Homo sapiens: one gene and its partner. The protein of the gene in region 1 interacts with the protein of each later gene in a pairwise test. Each region holds a gene or a part of one and is shown in the gene's direction. Other genes may lie near its edges. The genes, in order: TLR5 and RNF216.

The links.
Region 2: the proteins of TLR5 (region 1) and RNF216 interact in a two-hybrid assay, tested with the Homo sapiens proteins (one study listed by BioGRID).

What each region holds. Positions count from the first base shown.
Region 1 is NC_000001.11:223,112,103-223,115,922, reverse strand, and holds part of TLR5 (toll-like receptor 5 precursor), read left to right. Parts: intron 1-2,887; 5' UTR 2,888-2,891; coding exon 2,892-3,820. UniProt on the Homo sapiens protein: Pattern recognition receptor (PRR) located on the cell surface that participates in the activation of innate immunity and inflammatory response.
Region 2 is NC_000007.14:5,736,612-5,740,431, reverse strand, and holds part of RNF216 (E3 ubiquitin-protein ligase RNF216), read left to right. Parts: intron 1-1,079; coding exon 1,080-1,156; intron 1,157-3,820.

The sequences.
Region 1 (3,820 bases):
TACCATGTGTGTATTCCAGGATGGCTGGTACTTCCACCCTAGGACCTTGGTGCTGGCTGCTCCTTTCCCTCAAACGTTGGGCCTCTCCACATCCTTTCCTTACTTCTGTTAGACACCTGCTCTAATCTCATTACATCAGAGACACCCTTCCTGACTCCTCTCTATAAACAGCAGCCACCACCCGAGCCATGGCACCCCCATCTCCTTTTTCCCACTTTACTTTCTTCCATTGCATTTACCTCTGCCTGTCAGTACCTATTTCCTCTTCCTTTTGTTATCACCTCTTCCGTCCACCAGAATGTAAGCTCCATGAGGGCAGGCTTGGTCCATTTTGCTCACAGCTGTATCTCCAGCTCCTAAAACAATGCCTGAGGCTTGGTGTGCTGGCTCATGTTTGTAATCCCAGCACTTTGAGAGGCCAAGGCCGGTGGATCACTTGAGGTCAGGAGTTCAAGACCGTCCTGGGCCAACATGGTGAAACCCCATCTCTACTAAAAATACAAAAATTAGCTGGGCGTGCTGGCACACATTTCTAATCCAAGCTACTCAGGAGGCTGAGGTGGGAGGATCACTTGAACCCGGGAGGCGGAGGTTGCAGTGAGCTGAGATAGCACCGCTGCACTCCAGCCTGGGTGACAGTGTGAGACCCTGTCTCAAATAAATAATAAATAAAACAGTGCCTGACACATAATGGGTGCTCAGCAAATTTTTTTAATGAGTTATTGAGGAGAAAAACTATTCAAGATAATGTTGACAAGACAGCCAAGAGCTGAATCATGTAAGTACTCACAGGATTTTATTCCAAGTACAGCAGGAAGGAAGGGAAGGGCCCTGTACAAAGAGGAATGATATAAACCAGATTATGTTTTTGAAAGAACATGCTGGCTGCTGGCTGGAAAATGAAAGCAAGACCAGAAATAAGAGAGCCAGTGAGGAGTCTCCAGTCTGGCCCATGCAAAGAGATGGCGGCGGCTTACAGTAGGGCAGTGGATAGGCTTGGGAGGTGGCACCAACAGGACTTGCTGAGGGATTGGATATTGGGGGGATGTTTAAAAGAATGATGTTTAAAAGACTCTGCTGTGTTGTCACCCTGAGACTCTGGATGGATATGGTGAAGCCATTTACTGAGATGGGGGAGAAATTCAGAGTGGTGATAAACATTCTCACCAAGTTTTTCCTAACGATTATTAGATGCCTGAGTTTGAAACTTTGAGTCAATCCAGGCATCCATGCCTACTTCTGATTTGCTGTAGCTTGTGTGCCACAGCCTCCCAGTTTCTGTGGAAACCCCACCATACATCAGCCCCAGCACAAAGCACAACCTCGTCAGAGCTAGCCCACCTCCAGCACCGTGACTGCTCCAGGCTTAATCTCTCCTGGTGTTGACACTTTTGCCAGTGATGGTGTCTCATGGGATTCATGCTCTTTATAAACCATTGCCTTCTTCCTATTTCTTTCATTTATTTTTCCTCTCATTCTCCTGCCCTCTGAGCTATATAACTCTTCCTTTACCTTCCAACAGAGGCCTTTCATTACATTTAAAGCAAATGGAATGCATAGTAGGCACCAAAGATGGAGGTGCTGTGCAAATAATAGACACCAAGCTCTCTGCAGGTGGGGTCCTTGTGTGTTTTCTCTTCATAGCACCCAGCACAATACTTGGAACATAAGCCAGACACGTTCATTGAGCACCATTTCTGCTGCACCCATGAAAAAAACACTCAACCCAGACAGATGGTTAGCTCCCCGACAGGACTTAAGCAAGTGGGCCAGTCTCTGTTTATTGTCGTACACTCACACAATCACACAGCTGCCAGGCGAGCACTAGGCACTTATCACACTTTTATTAAACCGATCACATCTGGCTCTTTGTGGGGTGCCAGAAAGTGCCCAATTTCTGCATGATGGGATGGACTGTGTGTGGAGTAAGGTCGGATAAATGGAGATGGGCCAGTAGCCTAGACAAATTAAGGGAGAAAAACAGTGAATTTATTTTCCACTCATCAGCCGAGCTTTCTGTGGGCTAGGAACGGGGTACCCGGCTGAAGTGAAGCAACATTGTGTCTCTTCCTGCTGTTTTCTCCACCTCCCCTCAGCAAATCATGAATGAATAAACAAACGAATGAATGAAGAAACATAGAGTTATTATAAGGATTAAGTGAAGGCAGGGTGCAGTGGCTCATGCCTGTAATCCCAGCATGTTGGGAGGCCAAGGTAGGAGGATCGCTTGAGCTCAGGAGTTGAAGACCAGCATGGGCAACAAAGCGAGACCCCCATCTCTATATTTTTATTTTAATTTAGAATAATAAATAAAATTTTTTTAAAAGAAAAGATTAAGTGAAATGTTTTTTAAGTACCTAGAATAGTGCCTAGTATACAGAAAATTCAACGTAAGTGTTTGATAGAGAGCAAGAATAGGCCAGGTGTGGTGACTCACATCTGTAATCCCAACACTTTGGGAGGTTGAGGCAGGCAGGTCACTTGAGCCCACAAGTTGGAGACCAGCCTGGGCAACATGGTGAAACCCCATTTCTACTAAAAATACAAAAATTAGCCGGGTACAGTGGCACGTGCCTGTAGTTCCAGCTAATCAGGAGGCTGAGATGGAAGGATGGCTTGAACCCGGGAGGCGGAGGTGGCAGTGAGCTGTGATCATGCCACTGCACTCCAGCCTGGGCAACAGAGCAAGACCCTGTCTCAAAAAAAACAGAAATAGAGTAAGAATAGTTTTGTCTGTATCTGCCAACAGCCACGTCTGTGGAGTCAGAGGAATGAAGGGGTCAAAGGGAGCAGGCACATCATAGAGAATACCCCCAAGATCTGAAGACCCCAGTGCAATACCTCGAGCTTAAATGCCTGTGTTTTCATTCTCCCTTCTTCTCCATAGGATCATGGGAGACCACCTGGACCTTCTCCTAGGAGTGGTGCTCATGGCCGGTCCTGTGTTTGGAATTCCTTCCTGCTCCTTTGATGGCCGAATAGCCTTTTATCGTTTCTGCAACCTCACCCAGGTCCCCCAGGTCCTCAACACCACTGAGAGGCTCCTGCTGAGCTTCAACTATATCAGGACAGTCACTGCTTCATCCTTCCCCTTTCTGGAACAGCTGCAGCTGCTGGAGCTCGGGAGCCAGTATACCCCCTTGACTATTGACAAGGAGGCCTTCAGAAACCTGCCCAACCTTAGAATCTTGGACCTGGGAAGTAGTAAGATATACTTCTTGCATCCAGATGCTTTTCAGGGACTGTTCCATCTGTTTGAACTTAGACTGTATTTCTGTGGTCTCTCTGATGCTGTATTGAAAGATGGTTATTTCAGAAATTTAAAGGCTTTAACTCGCTTGGATCTATCCAAAAATCAGATTCGTAGCCTTTACCTTCATCCTTCATTTGGGAAGTTGAATTCCTTAAAGTCCATAGATTTTTCCTCCAACCAAATATTCCTTGTATGTGAACATGAGCTCGAGCCCCTACAAGGGAAAACGCTCTCCTTTTTTAGCCTCGCAGCTAATAGCTTGTATAGCAGAGTCTCAGTGGACTGGGGAAAATGTATGAACCCATTCAGAAACATGGTGCTGGAGATACTAGATGTTTCTGGAAATGGCTGGACAGTGGACATCACAGGAAACTTTAGCAATGCCATCAGCAAAAGCCAGGCCTTCTCTTTGATTCTTGCCCACCACATCATGGGTGCCGGGTTTGGCTTCCATAACATCAAAGATCCTGACCAGAACACATTTGCTGGCCTGGCCAGAAGTTCAGTGAGACACCTGGATCTTTCACATGGGTTTGTCTTCTCCCTGAACTCACGAGTCTTTGAGAC
Region 2 (3,820 bases), on another chromosome or scaffold:
CACAAGGGCTGGGCGTGCTGGCTCACACCTGTAATCCCAGCACTTTGGGAGGCCAAGGTGGGTGGATCACAAGATCAGGATATCAAGACCATCCTGGCTAACACGGTGAAACCCTGTCTCTACTAAAAAAATTAAAAATTAGCCGGGCGTGGTGGCGGGCGCCTGTAGTCCCAACTTCTTGGGAGGCTGAGGCAGGAGAATGGTGTGAACCCAGGAGGCAGAGCTTGCAGTGAGTCAGGATCGTGCCACTGCACTCCAGCCTGGGCGACAGAGTGAGACTCTATCTCACAAAAAAAAAAAAAAAAAAAAAAAAAAAAAAAAAAAAAAGGTGTTACATCTGGTAGCCACTATTTGCCTTCAAACAAGTCCGTTAACCCTACTTTACCCAGGCGGGTTTTTTTTGTTTTGTTTTTGGTTTGTTTTTTTTTTGAGACCGAGTCTCACTCTGTCACCCAGGCTGGGGTACAGTGGTGCGATCTCAGCTCACTGCAACCTCCGCCTCCTGGGTTCAAGCGATTCTTCTGTCTCTGCCTCCCGAGTAGCTGGGATCACAGGCACATACCACCACGTCTGGCTAATTTTTGTATTTTTTTAGTAGAGACGGGGTTTCACCATGTTGGCCAGGCTGGTTTTGAACTCCTGACCTCAGGTGATCCGCCTGCCTCGACCTCCCAAAGTGCTTCGATTATAGGCATGAGCCACTGCACCCGGCCACCCAGGTGTTTTTATCTAGGCACTAGGTTGTGTGCTGCTTGAGGGCTGGCATGAGATTGTAACTTATTTGTGTTTGGATTCCCTTTGTCTAGACAGAGATGCTCAATATTTGTTGAAGCAATGAAGAATGGATCTGTAAAATGGGGACAGAGAACCAGATCTCTCAAGACCTTTCTAGACCTCATCTTCTATGTAGACAGATGAATCTGGGAACTAGTGTTGAATTTGAAGACACACACAGACCTGCTTCACAGCCCTTTTCTAGTCTTTAGTCATTTTATTATACTTTTTGCCATCTGTCTTGTATTGCCATTTGAAACCATTCTAGTGAATGAAATATAAATTATGTTCTTATTTGTTTCTAGGAAGCAAGATTTCCAGATGTAGCAAATGGGTTTATTGAGGAAATAATTCATTTTAAGAATTATTATGATCTGAATGTGTAAGTATACTACCATGCTTTTTTTGTGGTGGTGGTGGTGGTGGTAAAATATATGTAATAAAAAATTTACCATTTTAATCATTTTTAAATATACAATTTGGTGTTGTTAAGTAAATTCACATTATTATGCAACTATCACCACCATCCATCTTCAGAACTCTTTCATCTTCTCAAACTGAAACTCTGTCCGCATTAAACACTCACTCCCCATCCCCTTCCCAAGCCAGTGGCACCCACCATCCTACTTTCTTTCTATATGGATTTGGCTACTATCAGGGACCTCATGTGTTTGTTCTTTTCTGACTGGCTTATTTCACTTGGCATTATGTCTTTTTTAATGACCTTGTTCGTTCTGACATTAGTGATACACAGACTGTTTTCTGGATTTTATGGAATACTGCATGGTTATAGAATTATGATAACTGAGTTGTTTCTAAGCGTTGATACTACCTGTGTTTTAGTCAAGATGTTAAGACATTTTCTTCCCTACGATTGTAACAAAATGTTCTGCAACCACTCTGTTTGGAGAAATACATGGAAGCATTTTTTTTTTTTTTTTTTTTTTTTTGAGACGGAGTCTCACTCTGTCTCCCAGACTGGAGTCCAGTGGTGCGATCTCGGCTCACTGCAAGCTCCGCCTCCCAGGTTCAGGCCATTCTCCTGCCTCAGCCTCCCGAGTAGCTGGGACTACAGGCGCCTGCCAGCACGCCTGGCTAATTTTGTGTATTTTTAGTAGAGATGGGGTTTCACCATGTTAGCCAGGATGGTCTCGATCTCCTGACCTCGTGATCCACCCGCCTCGGCCTCCCAAAGTGCTGGGATTACAGGTGTGAGCCACCGCTCCCAGCCATATTTCTTAATTTTCATTATAAAAGGGATAAATACGGGCCAGACATATGGTTCACACCTTTAATTCTGGCACTTTGGGAGGCTGAGGCAAGAGGATTGCCTGAGTCCAGGAATTCAAGGCTGCAGTGAGCTGTGTTACGCTACTGCACTCCAGCCTGGGAGCCAGAGTGGGACCTTGTCTCTTATTTTAAAAAAATTTTTTATAAGTGGTAAATATGCTTTTTTAAAAAATAAGTTTTCCTGAAGAATATAAAATGAAAAATATACTCTTTCCCCTCCTTCTAATCTGCAGAGGTGAAATAATTGTAATTTTTTTTTTTTTTTTTTTTTTTTTTTTTTGGAGACAGTCTTATTCTGTTGCCCAGGCTAGAGTGCAGTGGTGCGATCTTGGCTTAAACAGCAGTCTCCACCTCCCAGGTTCAAGCAGTTCTCCTGCTCAGTCTCCTGAGTAGCTGGCATTACAGGCGTACTCCACCCTGTCCGGCTAATTTTTGTATTTTTAGTAGAGACAGGGTTTCATCATGTTGGTCAGGCTGGTCTTGAAACCCTGACCTCATGATCTGCTCACCTCCACCTCTCAAAGTGCTGGGATTACAGCCATAAGCCACCGTGCTCAGCCTGGTGGTAAATTTAAACAAAATAGTTCACTAAACACCTTTCCCCAAAGTTCCTATCTTATACTGTAGTTCTCAGTCAAGGTTGCAGGTGAGTTTCTTCCCTGCCAAGGCTGAGAAGGAAGGGCCCCTTTCCAGGTGCTTAGCCCAATGTAGGTACTTTTTTCTAATTTGTACAATGACACTGTTGGAGCCATTAGTGGCCTTGTCTGATCCCACCTCTGTACAGAGGCAACCACTGTCATCAGATTTATATTTATTTATTTATTATTATTATTATTATTATTATTTTTAATTGATCATTCTTGGTTGTTTCTCGCAGAGGGGGATTAGGCAGGGTCACAGGACAATAGTGGAGGGAAGGTCAGCAGATAAACAAGTGAACAAAGGTCTCTGGTTTTCCTAGGCAGAGGACCCTGGGGTCTTCCGCAGTGTTTGTGTCCCTGGGTACTTGAGATTAGGGAGTGGTGATGACTCTTAACAAGCATGCTGCCTTCAAGCATGTGTTTAACACAGCACATCTTGCACCGCCCTTATTCCATTTAACCCTGAGTGGACACAGCACATGTTTCAGAGAGCACTGGGTTGGGGGTAAGGTAATAGATCAACAGCATCCCAAGGCGGAAGAATTTTTCTTAGTACAGAACAAAATGGAGTCTCCTATGTCTACTTCTTTCTACACAGACACAGCAACAATCTGATTTCTCTATCTTTTCCCCACATTTCCCCCTTTTCTATTCGACACAGCTGTCATCGTCATCATGGCCCGTTCTCAATAAGCTGTTGGGAACACCTCCCAGACGGGGTGGCGGCCGGGCAGAGGGGCTCCTCACTTCCCAGAAGGGGCAGCCGGGCAGAGGTGCTCCCCACCTCCCGGACGGGGCGGCTGCCGGGCGGAGGGGCTCCTCACTTCCCGGACGGGGCGGCTGCCGGGCGGAGGGGCTCCTCACTTCTCAGATGGGGTGGCTGCGGGGCGGAGGGGCTCCTCACTTCTCAGACGGGGCGGCCGGGCAGAGACGCTGCTCACCTCCCAGATGGGGTCGCAGCCTGGCAGAGGCGCTCCTCACATCCCAGATGGGGCGGCGGGGCAGAGGCGCTCCCCACGTCTCAGATGATGGGTGGCCCGGCAGAGACGCTCCTCACTTCCTAGAAGGGATGGTGGCCGGGAAGAGGCGCTCCTCACTTCCCAGACTGGGCAGCC